Homo sapiens: one gene and its partners. The protein of the gene in region 3 purifies or fractionates together with the protein of the main gene of each other region. This does not show direct contact. Each region holds a gene or a part of one and is shown on either strand. Other genes may lie near its edges.

What was found.
Region 1: the proteins of DHRS9 (region 3) and SLAMF1 purify together in Homo sapiens (affinity purification with mass spectrometry; one large-scale study listed by BioGRID and IntAct). This does not show direct contact.
Region 2: the proteins of DHRS9 (region 3) and SLC2A8 purify together in Homo sapiens (affinity purification with mass spectrometry; 3 studies listed by BioGRID and IntAct, with this or other methods). This does not show direct contact.
Region 4: the proteins of DHRS9 (region 3) and ATP2B2 purify together in Homo sapiens (affinity purification with mass spectrometry; 2 studies listed by BioGRID and IntAct, with this or other methods). This does not show direct contact.

The regions. Positions count from the first base shown.
Region 1 is NC_000001.11:160,623,045-160,626,544, reverse strand, and holds part of SLAMF1 (signaling lymphocytic activation molecule isoform b precursor), read left to right. Parts: intron 1-2,359; coding exon 2,360-2,449; intron 2,450-2,959; coding exon of another isoform or gene 2,960-3,042; intron 3,043-3,500.
Region 2 is NC_000009.12:127,396,025-127,399,968, forward strand, and holds the start of SLC2A8 (solute carrier family 2, facilitated glucose transporter member 8), read left to right. Parts: upstream 1-1,144; 5' UTR 1,145-1,206; coding exon 1,207-1,262; intron 1,263-1,351; coding exon 1,352-1,514; coding exon of another isoform or gene 1,515-1,880; coding exon 1,881-2,087; intron 2,088-2,147; exon of another isoform or gene 2,148-2,289; coding exon of another isoform or gene 2,290-2,310; intron 2,311-3,882; coding exon 3,883-3,944.
Region 3 is NC_000002.12:169,093,563-169,096,667, forward strand, and holds the end of DHRS9 (dehydrogenase/reductase SDR family member 9), read left to right. Parts: intron 1-1,981; coding exon 1,982-2,205; 3' UTR 2,206-2,605; downstream 2,606-3,105. UniProt on the Homo sapiens protein: 3-alpha-hydroxysteroid dehydrogenase that converts 3-alpha-tetrahydroprogesterone (allopregnanolone) to dihydroxyprogesterone and 3-alpha-androstanediol to dihydroxyprogesterone. Also plays a role in the biosynthesis of retinoic acid from retinaldehyde.
Region 4 is NC_000003.12:10,499,087-10,502,586, reverse strand, and holds part of ATP2B2 (plasma membrane calcium-transporting ATPase 2), read left to right. Parts: intron 1-3,500. UniProt on the Homo sapiens protein: ATP-driven Ca(2+) ion pump involved in the maintenance of basal intracellular Ca(2+) levels in specialized cells of cerebellar circuit and vestibular and cochlear systems.

The DNA of each region.
Region 1 (3,500 bases), on a different chromosome or scaffold from region 3:
TTAAAAAGGTCTATGATTCATATTTGTATCCAAAGATGAGGAAAAAAATTAGAGTTTATGAAATATCTTTCAGGACCATGGCCAACTTGTCTCTCAGATCTAGATGGACTGGCAGAAGCTTGTCATAGGACAAAGGTAGCAGATTGCTTTCATCCTCTAGAGACCCTAGAAAAGATAGAGAGGGCCGGCGTTGTCATGTCCTGAAGCCTTGGTGCTGCACCCAGTCATCGTTAGTTTCTGTGAGTTGGTGGGCAGCAGAGCAACCGGCGTCGGGCGCGAGGGAGAGGAGGCTGACTCACCAGGCATTACTGGTGCAGTTTTGTCTTTTATTTTCCAGTTCAGAGGTACTACTTTGTCTGTTGGTTTTATTTTTTTAATCTCAAGTGAAATTGGAAAGAAATATTATCTTTTAAAATGATATAAATGGTGGGGGTGTTTCTTCTCAAATCAGTTGTTGTATTGGAAGTTCCCAAAGTATCTATGATAGAAGAAGAAAGAGGAACTAGTCAAAATAGTAAGTGCTACTATAATGGTTTGCTGGATCAGTTCCATAGGCTGACGAAACACAAAGTTCAGGCTACTGGCTTTGCTTCTTATCCTAGTATTAGAGTGATTTCTCCAGTGGTTCCTAGTGTCGATATCATAAACCTTGAATGAATCAATCTGTCTCAAACACACACATACACACATACACACACACACACACACACACACACACACTCCTGCACAGAGGGTTCTCAGTGACCATAAGTCACTCAGAGTGGAGCTGCTCCTTCCTCCAGCATCAGCAATGATTCAAAATGTCATGCTTTATACAAATTCAGAACTCTCTGCCTGCCTCCTAACTTTTTTTTTTAATCAGAGCATAAGACTGTTGAAGTTGGTATCTGGCAAAATTAAAACATTTAATTTAGGGGATAGAACCTATAACCAAGGTGTTTGCAAAGTCAGTTCAGTGAGATTCCTTGGGCTAACTTGATGTGTGAAAGGCCTAAGGAGAAAAAGAATCTTTTCAAATCCAGAAGGCAACTTCTTGCCAGCTATCAGGCTGGAGGCCCCTTTGGATCTTGTAGGCTGCATTTTATGAATTCATTGAGACTGTCTGTATCTTTGGTCAACTCTGTAAACATCTGATTGTGTCCACCATGATTCTTTCCTTTGGAACCCGACTATTTTTCTTTCAATTTCTGCCCCACAAATTCCTCACAGGTTCAACAACAAGCAGGCTTATTCCACAATCATCCTTATAAGTTTCCCTTACACATTAATGTTAACATCTGGTGTTACTCTATTTAGAACCTTAGTGCGAATATTCTACTTAGAACCCTAGGGCTTCAGCTCGGTCCCCACTGTTCATTACCCCGGTATAACTTTTTCCAAGCCCATAAGTCTCTCTAACTCTCCAAGAAGTCTGTCTTTAGTATTCAGCCACATTTCTACTACTAAACCAAGCTCTAGTTCTTGAGGTTCTCCAGGCTGTTTTCCTTCTCCATAAAATGAGAATAATGAGTGTACCTACCTTGTAAGATTATTGTGAGGATTAAATATGTTAGTACACATGATGCACTAAAAATATGTGGCCCATTGCAAGTGCTCAATAATTGTTCATTATAATCTTATTGAGCTACATGTCTTGTTTACTGGGGGTGATAATTCTCATTCACTGTTTGTCAAAGTGTTGCTCCTAGTTCAAAAGGATTTGATAAAGTGGGTAAAGGAGAGAAAACAATAAAAGTTTTCTCTCTGATTTTGAGCCTTGATGATTAGTTCTCGGGCTAATTTTAAACATGAAGATGATTTAGAGGAAAGACTAAATACTTTCCTTTCAGTTCAGGTCTGCTGGGTTCAACCCAGTTATTTGCATGAAAGGACAACAATAGCACTATTATGTTTATTTTTAAAAAAGATAAGTAGATCTTTCTTCCTCCCAGTGTCTCATGAGAATAGCGTGAATTCACAGGGACGGCACATGGAACCATTATATTCTCTTTACCCAAAATGGATACAGGACACATTAGCAATCTTAAGATGGAGAAACTGGGCAGAGAGATTGACTTAGGAGAGATGAAGATAATTTAATGTTAGACATGTGGTAGTTGAGTTAAAAATAAAGCATTTGGATAGAAAAATCTTCATGAAATTAAGAATGTGAAAGTATAGTGAGAGAAATTAGAATAAGAAAACAGATACAAAAATTTTCAGTGGTCTAAAGCTGACCTCTAAAACCATGAAAACAAACGTCTCCCTTGGGAGAGAATGCAGAAATAGAACATGAGGCTCCATTATCCCACTTTCATGTAAGATGTTTTTAAGCTCAGAATACTTTTGAGATTGCTCTTTGACTTCTTTTTTTTTCCAGAAACAAAACCATGGGCAGTGTATGCTGGGCTGTTAGGGGGTGTCATCATGATTCTCATCATGGTGGTAATACTACAGTTGAGAAGAAGAGGTAGGTGTCTGGCAATAAATAGATTCTTATCACACTCTCTGTGGTAAGCAGGGGACCTCTCTCCACAGGCTCGGACTTGCTCTCACAACTCTGGCTTTCTGCATGGGGCCACCTTTGCAAAAATAGTAGATAAACATATCCTGGGACCTTGCTTAATTCAGTCTAATTCAACATGTCTTGATCCCCTCTACTAGGCTGTGGAAAGAAATAGAAGAGCCACAGGTTTCTAATGTGAGAGACATTATTCAGATAATTTCAGTTTAGTGTGACTAGCACTGCCATCAGGGTAAACACAGGATGCTGAAGAAGTGAACAAGAGGTTTAAGAGTATTCACTGGGAACAGAATTCAGAAAATTATTGGATCTCATCCAAAAAGTCACCAGGGTTAGAATGAAACCAATAAGGCACAATTATTCCCCTGCAGTTGAAGTGCCTAGAGGTACCATCCCCTGTCCTCTCTTCCAAATTTCCCTATGATACAATATCTCAGGGCATTGTGCTCCCCTCAGCCACCTTGACTACTACCAACCAATACTGGAGTCAAAATGTCCTGACCCAAGACCAGGAGAGATGCCCCGGCTGCCTTCCCATGGTAAGGATAGAACTTGATCCTCATAACACTGAGCTGATGACTGATTTCATTCTCAAGTAGATCAGTGTCATCTACACACAACCTTCTTAGAAAAGCCCTTACCTCAGCACTCTGATGTTGGTTTTGCATATATAAAAAAATCTAGATCATAGCACAGCGACCTACTTGTGTCTCATTTCCTCCATCTAAGAGTTAGCCAGGTAGGAGGGATGGGTGATTCAGATAGAAATTAGGTTGACAGCCTATGGGGCTCGGGGTAGGGCAATCACATTTAGCTCATACTATAAGGAAATAGTGAGATGACCCAGGATGAGAAAACTGAACTTAACTTATCCACATTAACCTACCTAGTAAAATTGCTGGGATCCTACGCCATACTCTTTCCTCAACCACACTTGGCTTATCACATGGTTGTGCTCTAAGGGAATAGTGCTCCCCATCCCACAATTCCCCACTAC
Region 2 (3,944 bases), on a different chromosome or scaffold from region 3:
GTGCTTCACATGTCTTATATACATTACCTTGCTTCACAACTCTCCTGGAAGATAATGGTCATCCCCACTTAGAGATGAGGAAACACAAGGCCCAGAGAGGGATTACAAGCCAAGCCTCTTACTCCCATGCCCTGGCTCTTTCCAGAATTACACCAGCATTCCACCACAGCTGCCTGCACCCAGAGTGTTGGGTATGAATCGGGTACAACTGGTGAGATCCAACAGTGCCTCATCATTCGACTTGGGTGCACACGGGAGAAGGTGGCATTAAAATCCACAGGGAACTCAAAATATGGAGGCAGGTAGATGAAGATTCAAGAGTCAGGACTCCCTGTGAAGTGAGTGACACTTAAGAGGGGGAGTGGAGCCCAGATCTGTCACACATACGGCGTGGGGGACCCCACCTACCACTGGTCCTCAGCACCTGGAGACCCGAGCCTTCAGCAATCTGGGAAGCATGAAAGTGGGTTTCGGTGCACAGGGCCACGCCTCCGCCGCCAGCAGCCCAGCGGGAGCGTCTGACCAGTCTCGCCCTCCGAGAGGAGAGAGAGGCGGCCCAGGACGGTCTGCTTAGAGGCTCTCTCCCCTGCAGAGCTGGGCCCAGGCATAGGTCAGACGCCTCCAATACAGTCCCCAGGGCAGCGATTAAAGCGGAGCAGGAACTGCAGACCCGACCGGGCAGGACAGGTGCAGCTTCTCGGAGTTGGGGGCGGGAAGTCTCGGGCTGAGGCCCACGTGCTTCGCCTTCGCCCCGCCTCTACCCTCATTGGTTGAAGCCAGATTGAGAGGAGGTGCCAGAAAAAAAACTCCTCCCTCCAACCTCATTGGCCAGCTCAGTTCTGAGGCAGCTCTCTGGCCCCGTCTATGGGCTCGCACTACACTCCAATTGGGTGGTTGTTCTCCCAGACGGAAACTCCGCCCCACCTGTACCTTGGACCGCTCCGCCCTAGGGGCGGTTCCAGCGCGCTTCGCTAATCGGTTCTATGCTCCCATTGGTCTGCTTTAATGTGAAGGGCGGGTCCTAGCTGATTCGCTAGCCCCGCCTTGCGTTCCTATTGGCTGCTCCTGCTCTGCGGTTCCGATCCCGCCCAGCACCGTCCCCCACCCCCCGCCGCCCATTGGCTGCGAGAGGCCGGTGCGGGCCGCACTCGCAGGGCCCGTGGCGGTTCAGGCGCCAGAGCTGGCCGATCGGCGTTGGCCGCCGACATGACGCCCGAGGACCCAGAGGAAACCCAGCCGCTTCTGGGGCCTCCTGGCGGCAGGTGAGCTCCGGGGAACCCGGGCCCGGATGCGGCCTCGCCCTCCCGCCCCTCCGCGTCCGCTCCGCTCACCCTCGGCCCTGTCCCCCCAGCGCGCCCCGCGGCCGCCGCGTCTTCCTCGCCGCCTTCGCCGCTGCCCTGGGCCCACTCAGCTTCGGCTTCGCGCTCGGCTACAGCTCCCCGGCCATCCCTAGCCTGCAGCGCGCCGCGCCCCCGGCCCCGCGCCTGGACGACGCCGCCGCCTCCTGGTTCGGGGTGAGGCCCCGGGCTCGCTCCTCCCGCCCTGGGACCCCACGCCCTCCTCTCGGGACGGGCATCGGGACCCTCCGCCCCCCACCCTTCCCCTCGGGACAGGCATCGGGCCCCGCCGCCACCACCTTTCCCCACGAGACAGGCATTGGGCCTCTCTGCCCCCCATCCCTTCCCTCGGGACGGGCATCGAGCCCCTCAGCCCCCACCCCTCCCCTCGGGACGAGCACCGGGCCCCTCAGCCCCCTACCCCTCCCCTCGGGACGGGCGCGGGGCCCCGGCTCTTTTACCTCTGAGCCCGCGGGGAGTGGGTGGAGGGGGAGGATGGGCTGCGGCTTCGGCGCCCCCTCCTCAGCAGCCGCCCGCCTCCAGGCTGTCGTGACCCTGGGTGCCGCGGCGGGGGGAGTGCTGGGCGGCTGGCTGGTGGACCGCGCCGGGCGCAAGCTGAGCCTCTTGCTGTGCTCCGTGCCCTTCGTGGCCGGCTTTGCCGTCATCACCGCGGCCCAGGACGTGTGGATGCTGCTGGGGGGCCGCCTCCTCACCGGCCTGGCCTGCGGTGTTGCCTCCCTAGTGGCCCCGGTGAGTGTCCCGTCTCTCGAGTGTCCTGTCTCGCGGCCTGAGACCGAGGGGGAGTGGGACAAACCGCTCCCCAGGCCTGGGGGCGCGGCTCCCCCTGGCGGGACCTTCTGGGTGCCAGGCTTGAAGTCCCTGCGTTATCTCGCGGTCCCTCCCGTCGACCCTGGGAAGGATCCTACTGTTCTCTCCATTTTACACTGAGGTCATGACATGCAGTCTCGGAAAGGTGAAGTCCTTTGCCCAGGCGAGGTCCACAGCTAGTCAGAGGGGAAGCAGTTGCAGGAACCCAGGGTTGTCCCACTTAGCCGTGCCCCTCTTTTGCTCTGCAAACCTGCGGATGATCCACAGGAGCCCACTCCCTACATTTTGGTTTTCATCCCTGGCTTCGGGTCAATGACTGCAATTAGCAGGAAGTTCCTGTCCTGATTTCTCTTGGGGCAAAGGCTGCTGGCCTCTGTGTTCCCCTTCCCTTCTCACAGGCCAGCCCCTCTGGCTTCCCCATCTTCCCCCTTTCCCCCTCCTGACCCAGGCTGCCCACTTGGGAGCCCCGAACATCTGGGTCAAATCCTGGTTCTGCCACTAACCTGAGCAGAGTGCCTCCCTGGGCCTCAGTTTCCTTCTCTGGAAAACAGGGATTATGGCATTAGCCCCTGAGGTAGTGGTCAGGATTCAGTGGGACTTTGGATAGACAGCCCCTGGCATGGCTTGTAGAGGACTGGATCCTGACAGCTTGGTGACCCATGAACTGCCCCCAGCCATGGGCTTGGACAATATCTCCCCCAAGTGAGGTTGAAAGCAGCCACTCAGGCCCCTCCCTGGGTGCTCATTTCACCAACGTTTGCTAACCGGCAGCAGCAGCTGGACCAGAAGAGGGTGGGGAAGAAGCTGGGCCTTTTATGTCTTTGGTTTTTTTAACTGGGCAGAAACACACCTGTGTTAGGGGCCTAAGCTATGGAATAACCTTAGATGCATGGGTGAGGGCCTGGTGGCCTGTGGGCCCAGGAGGGAGCTAGTGGCAGCCACTGGTAGTGACCGAGGCAGAGAGTTCGTGCTTCTAGTCCAAGGCCACCACTCAAAGCGTGGGCCCTGGGCTAGGATCCTGGGTGGGCGTCACGTGGAGCTGGTTAACAAGGTGGAATCTTTCGCCTGTCCAGACCTACTGCATCGGAATCTATGATTTATCCAGGGTGTCTGTGCACATTAAACGAAGGCTTGAGAAGCTCTGTGCCCACCGCCTCTCGTCATCATATGCAGCCCTCTCCGTTACCCTTAATCCCCTTTAAACACCTGCCACAGATCTTTCAGTGGTGGGGACCTGGGGATGGCTCTGCTCACCTAGGCAGGTTCCACTAAGGGGCTTCAGGGCCTGCCGTAACCCCCTGCAAGGACTTTCCTCAGCTCTGAATGGCTGAGACCTTTCCATTTTAAGAACTCTTGGAGCCTGAGTAAAGCCTCATCTTTTTTTTTTTTTTTTTAATTTTTATTTAAAAATTTCGGAGTTTCGCTCTTGTTGCCCAGGCTGGAGTGCAATGGTGGGATCTTGGCTCACCGCAACCTCCACCTCCAGGGTTCAAGTGATTCTCCTCCCTCAACCTCCTGAGTAGCTGGGATTACAGATGTGTGCCACTAGGCCCAGCTAATTTTGTATTTTTAGTAGAGATGGGGTTTCTCCCTGTTGGTCAGGCCAGTCTCAAACTCCCAACCTCTGGTGATCTGCCCGCCTCGGCCTCCCAGAGTGCTGGGATTGCAGGCATGAGCCACTGCGCCCAGCCATAAATCCTCATCTGATTGCTGGCAGGTCTACATCTCCGAAATCGCCTACCCAGCAGTCCGGGGGTTGCTCGGCTCCTGTGTGCAGCT
Region 3 (3,105 bases):
GAGCTTTCTCTGTTTGATATTGATACCGATACTTTTTAAATGCCTTTGAATATATCACTGACTTCCATCTCCAATTATTTTTGGCTTGGTTCCTGGTTCATGTGTTCTGTCTCAGAAATACCAAAAGGCATTGAGCTCAGTTTTACACTGGTTGTTCTCACTAGAGTTTTCAAGTCAGGACTTGGAGATCAGCCAAAGTCACGGTCCCAAAGTAGACCACAAATTGAAGGTCATCTTTTCTTAATTTCCCAAGCTGGGATAGTAGGAGTTTAAAATAGCCACTAAGACTTATTAGGTTCTTTGAACAACTTGTGGCCAGTGGGACTTGAAGTTGAAAGAAAGATCTAACATCATAGACTTTCCCTTGAGAAGACACAGCTCAGGTATGGTTTAAAAGTATGTGAGAATCATATGATAGCTCTACTTTGAATTTGGGGGGGAAATCTCTATGCCATTTTCCATAATGACTGTACTAATTTACATTCTCACAAACAGTATACAAGAGGTTTTCTCCATGCCCTTGTCAATACTTGTTATCTTTTGTCTTTTGATAGTAGCCATTCTAACAAATGTGAGGTGATATCTCATTTTGGTTTTAATTTGCATTTCCCTGATGATTAGTGGTGACAAACATTTTTTTCATATACCTGTTGGCCATTTGTATCTTCTTTTGAGAAAAGTCTGTTCAGATTCTCTTCCCATTTTTAATCAGGTTATTTCTTTTCTTGCTGTTGAGTTTCTTATACATTTTGGATATTAACTGTGCCTAAGATATAAAGTTTGCAAATATTTTTTCCCATTCTGTATGTTTTCTCTTCACTCTTTCAACTGTTTCCTTTGCTGTGCAGAAGCTTTTTAGTTGGATACAGTCCCACTTATCTAGTTTTGCTGTTGTTTAGCTTTGTGTTTTTGGGGTCATATCCAAAGAAATCATTGCCCAGACCAATGTCAAGAAGTATTTCCTTTATGTTTTCTTCTAGTAGTTTTTTTTTTTTTTTAATAGAGATGAGGTCACACTATGGTGCCCAGGATGGTCTTGAACTCCCTGGGATCAAGTGATCTTCCCACCTCAGCCTCCCAAAGTGCTGTAATTACAGGTGTGAGCCACCATGCCAGGCCTCTTTTGGCAGTTTTATAATTTCAGGTCTATGTTTAAGTCTTCAATCCATTTTAAGTTGATTTTTTTATATGGTGTAAGATTCAGTTTCATTCTTCTTCATGTGGATATACTGTTTTCCCAATACCATGTATTGAAAAGACTGGGGTTGTAATCCACCACTAATCCCTTGTAAAATCCCTGCCTCTCTAAAGGTATCTTCGCTCATTATTCAAACATCTCATTTGCATGAGAACTGGGATCCTTTTAGCTTCCTGAGTCAGTACATTTGGGGATGATTCTCTCTTTATTTACAGATTATAGAAGCCTATACAAGTATACAAGTGCACAATTACATCCACACATGCATGCACATACATGCACAAGCACATGTGCAACCCACATTTTCTCTAGACACATAATCCCCTAAAACAAATTAGAAATCAAACATACAACTTTCTAGGCTTAGGGGCCTCATGGGCTTTATGAAGTATCGTTTCCTCATTGCTCTAAAGCACTGAGGGATCAAAGTTTGATCCCTGGACCAGCAGCATCAGCATCATCTGGAAATTTGTTAGAAATGCTCATTCTTGGGCCCCACCTCATACCTCAGTCAGAAACTCTGGAGGTGGAACCGAGAAACCTGGGTTTTAATGAGCTCTCTAGAAGAATCTGCTGCCAACCCAATCTTGAGAGCTGCTGGTCTAAAGAAAGCATTGCAATATCATTTTCTGAGGAATAGATAGTAAATCCTCAAAATGAGCCTCAATTATAATGGACAATTCAGAATAAATCCCCTTGTATCCATCCTCCCCTTTGCACCCTAGACTTCCACTCTGCTTTCCCCTTCTACCAAAGAGTAAATGTACTTTTGTCTCTTTTTAGGTCTAGACAAACTGAAAGGCAATAAATCCTATGTGAACATGGACCTCTCTCCGGTGGTAGAGTGCATGGACCACGCTCTAACAAGTCTCTTCCCTAAGACTCATTATGCCGCTGGAAAAGATGCCAAAATTTTCTGGATACCTCTGTCTCACATGCCAGCAGCTTTGCAAGACTTTTTATTGTTGAAACAGAAAGCAGAGCTGGCTAATCCCAAGGCAGTGTGACTCAGCTAACCACAAATGTCTCCTCCAGGCTATGAAATTGGCCGATTTCAAGAACACATCTCCTTTTCAACCCCATTCCTTATCTGCTCCAACCTGGACTCATTTAGATCGTGCTTATTTGGATTGCAAAAGGGAGTCCCACCATCGCTGGTGGTATCCCAGGGTCCCTGCTCAAGTTTTCTTTGAAAAGGAGGGCTGGAATGGTACATCACATAGGCAAGTCCTGCCCTGTATTTAGGCTTTGCCTGCTTGGTGTGATGTAAGGGAAATTGAAAGACTTGCCCATTCAAAATGATCTTTACCGTGGCCTGCCCCATGCTTATGGTCCCCAGCATTTACAGTAACTTGTGAATGTTAAGTATCATCTCTTATCTAAATATTAAAAGATAAGTCAAACATTTTCATGAGTGGATAGACATGTTCTGTTACCTTGCTGAGGATGACTCTGAAGGACCAAAGCTCAGTTCTGATAAGCTTTGAAAAGGACAGGAAAAGGGAGGGTGATCAAGCATTGTGTGACACGGGTATAAGCTAAAGGCAGCAGTAAAACACTAGATAGAACTGCAAACAGAAGGAAAGAAAAAGATAGGAAAAGGAATAAGAGGACTGCAACAAAAGAATATATACCTAAATATATATATATGAAGAGAGACTCCCCAACACTCAGACAAGCCTTCCTAGAGGGAGCTATGGAGGTGAACATCCTATTCAAGCCCCTAAGAACATTGATGCACACAGTTTTCTGGTGGAAAGATGTAATGACATAGTAACTAATCATTCCAAAAGAAGAATAATGTTACATTTGGTTGGTTTATTCTGATGATTGTAAAAGTAACAAGACCCAGACCATGTGGCACAACTTACACCTGAGATGGCTGGAAATCTTGCATTTGAAGGGTC
Region 4 (3,500 bases), on a different chromosome or scaffold from region 3:
AAAGGAAACTGTGGCCCAGCCAGGCACAGGGACTTGTCCAAGGTCACACCGTGTTCTGTAGAGACCTGGGCTTCTTGCAAGTGCTCTCAGGCCCCAGACAAGAAGCAGCAGAGGCCTGTGTTGGCCCCTGGTTTTCCCCAGGTGTTTGACTGTGGGTGGAAAGTATGAGAGCCCTGGGCCCAGCCCTGCTCCTGACCAGCTGTGTGATCTTGGCCAAGTCACTTCCTCTCTCTGCCCTCAATCTTCTCATCTGTGGCCAGGCAGGCCTATCTCTGCCCTGTTTTATGCCACAGCTGCCAGAGAGCCCTGGACACTGTAGAGGGCTGTGCACGAAGGTGTGATTGGCATCAGGATCAGGAGCCGGAGCAGGTGAGCACCTTGCTGCTGCAACTGGCCAACTCTGAGATCAGAAAGGGAAAAAAGGAAAGAAATCTCTAGTTTGCAGATCGGAGGTCAGAAAAGCTGCCTGTGGCTTATGCTATGTGCAGAGCCTGAAACACTGGCCCATCCGCCTGCTGTCCCACTGCCCTCCTCTGCCTTCCCCCTGCCCAGCCACAGGTATGGGTCAGGAAACCCATTAATGCATTAATTAACCTAAAGATCACCTGATGGGGGCAGATTTCTGGGCCCTACCTTGATGAATCAGGAGGTCCCAGGGGCTACATTTCCACAGGTACCCCTGGGTTTTCACCCATTTCACTCCGCACCCTGGGGAGCTGAGGTGCTTAAGAGTGGGCTTGGTGGAGCACATAGGCGCTCAGAGCTGGGGGTGGCCTAGACACCATGCTGTTCTGCCTGTACCTGTCACACGTGGGGAAACTGAGGTCTCCAGCCTAGTGGGTGACTGAATGAGACTGAAACTCATTTCCTCTCCCCACCAGTCCCCTACCAACCCCTAGCCCCTGGCTTCACCCTGCACAGCTAAATCAGGCCCTCCTGAGGACCGATGAACCCTCAAATCCAAAACAAGGCCATCTTCTCAGCAGACAGCTGGGAGCCATGCTCCAAGGGCACTCTCCAAGACCCCATCTCTACAAAAAATTTAAAAATTAGCAGGGTGTGGTGGCATACTCCTGTCGTCCCAGCTATGCAGGAGGCTGAGGTGGGAGGATCGCTTGAGTCCGGGAGGTCAAGGCTGCAGTGAGCCGTGATTGTGCCACTGCACTCCAGCCTGGATGACAGAGCGAGACCCTGTCTCAAAAAAAAAAAAAAACCGTTTAAAAAATGGGTTATGCTATGGAAAACTCCTGGGACCTCCTGCTGGGCAGTGTGGCTTCGGCTTCACCCCGGTCTTCACTTGACAGTCTGGATGGAGGCGGCGGGAGGCAGGGGGAAGCGGGAGTGACGGTAAAAGCCTTAGAAGTGTCATTCACAGTCTAGGAAATCTCTGCAGGGTCAGAGAGTTCCAGATATGTGGCCAGAGACCACGGCTGGCAGGACCAGGAGGGCAAGTGACCAGGCCCGAGCAGGGGCCACAGCTCAGGTTCCTAAAGAAACAGAGGTCCCTGGGTATGGGGGAGAGTGTGTTGGTCTGAGGGTCAGGAGAGCTGGGTCCCAGGCCGGCTCATCACTGGCGAGTGACCTTGGAAAAGCTGTGTAAGCCCTCTGGTCCCAAGCTCTCCCCTTGTGAGAGGGGTCAGTGATCCTGCCCCCCAGTGTCCTTGGTGAGGGCAGCTTCTCCTGCCCACTGCCCCTTGGGGTGAAGGGTCAGAAACACTGCAAGTCTCAGGAAGTAGCAAGGAGAGCAACTGCAGGGACAGCCCGTTGTGTTTGTTTTCTGTGGCTGCCATAACAAATGACCACAGGCTAGGTGGCTTCAAACAACAGACGTGTATTGTCTCCCACTTCTGGAAGCCAGAAGTCTAGAGTCAGGAGCCAGCAGGGTTGGCTTTTCCTGGAGAGGCTGAGGAAGAGCCTGTCCCTTGTCTCCCTAGCTACGGGCAGTGGCCAGCAACCCTTGCTCTTCCTCACCTTGTGGCTGCGTCACACCCATCTCTGCTTTCATCTTCACCTCACTCCTTCCTGTGTGTCTCTCGGTGTCCTCTCCTCTGCTTCTAAAGACATTGGTCATTGGATTTAGGGCCCAACCTAGACCCAAGATGATTTCATCTCAAAATCCTTAGCTAATTCCATCTGCAAAGATCCTATTTCCAAACAAGGTCACATTCTGAGGTTCCAGGTGGGCATGAACTTTGGATAGGACACCGTTCAACCCACTGCAGTCACTAAGATTTATGAGGTGTTTATTGCTCATAAGACCTGCACACAGTCTTATCTCTTCTTCACCATCACCCATTTTCCGGATTACAGAAACCAGGGCCCAGAGACATTAAGAATGTGCCCAAGTCAGGCCAGGCGCAGTGGCTCATACCTGTAATCCAAGCACTTTGGGACGCCAAGACAGGTGGATCACCTGAGGTCAGGAGTTCGAGACCAGCCTGGCCAACATGGCAAAACCCCGTTTCTACTAAAAATACAAAAAAAGTTAGCCGGGCCTGGTGGTGCATGCCTGTAATCCAGCTACTCAGGAGGCTGAGACAGGAGAATCATTTGATCCTGGGAGGTGGAGGTTGCAGTGAGCCAAGATGGAACCATTGCACTCTAGCCTGGGTGACAGAGTGAGACTCTATCTCAAAAAAAAAAAAAAAAAAAAAAGAATGTGCCCAAGTCACACAGCAAGTGAGGGGCAGAGCTGGGATTTGAACCCAGGTCCCTGGTGCTCCTTCACCTTTCCACCTTTTTGTAGCTGGCTGGGGGATGCCCAGAGACCCCTTAGGGCCCACAGCTAGGAATCCATGGGGCAGGAATTCCAGCCAGCCCTATGAAGACCCCAGGTCTGCAGGGGCTCCTGGGCACCAGAGAGAGGCTGGAGACAGGCAGGGGAGCTTCAAGGTGTGAAGGGGCCCAGCCGTGGTCCCAGGAGACCAACATGTGGCAGAGGATTGAGAGCCACAGTTCCTTGTCTCTGCCACTGACTCTGTGAACGTCATTGTGCTCTTCCGGAGAATAGGGGCAGCAGCACTGACTTTATGGGGTAATTGCCAAGTACCGAAATGTTCATCATAATAGTACTAATCGCTAAAATGTGTCCGCAAGCACTTTACAAATGCTTTTTGTTTTCCCATGTAATGCGTGGGAGGGGAATTGCTTATTCAGTCATGTGCGTTCGGTTGTGTGTGGTTGAACCAGTGACTTCGCCTCAGTTTGCTCCTCCGTAAACCAAGGGTTAGCTGAGCACCCATCTTCCCGGTTGTCACGTGAGGCAAACAGGATCCAAGTACAGGGCTTGGCCCGGGTGTGGTCCAGGTAGAGGCTCAGCGGATGTTTTCTTGCCTGTAAGATGGGATAGTGGTAGTATTATGATGATGCTATTATTTGTTGTATGAGGATTTGGTGAAGTAATGCAAAGGAAGCACTTGGCTCAGGGCCTCGCCAGAAATTGATGGAAAGTGGCCTCCTTTGTGGCATCAGAAAGATTTGAGTATAAATCCTAATGCCAG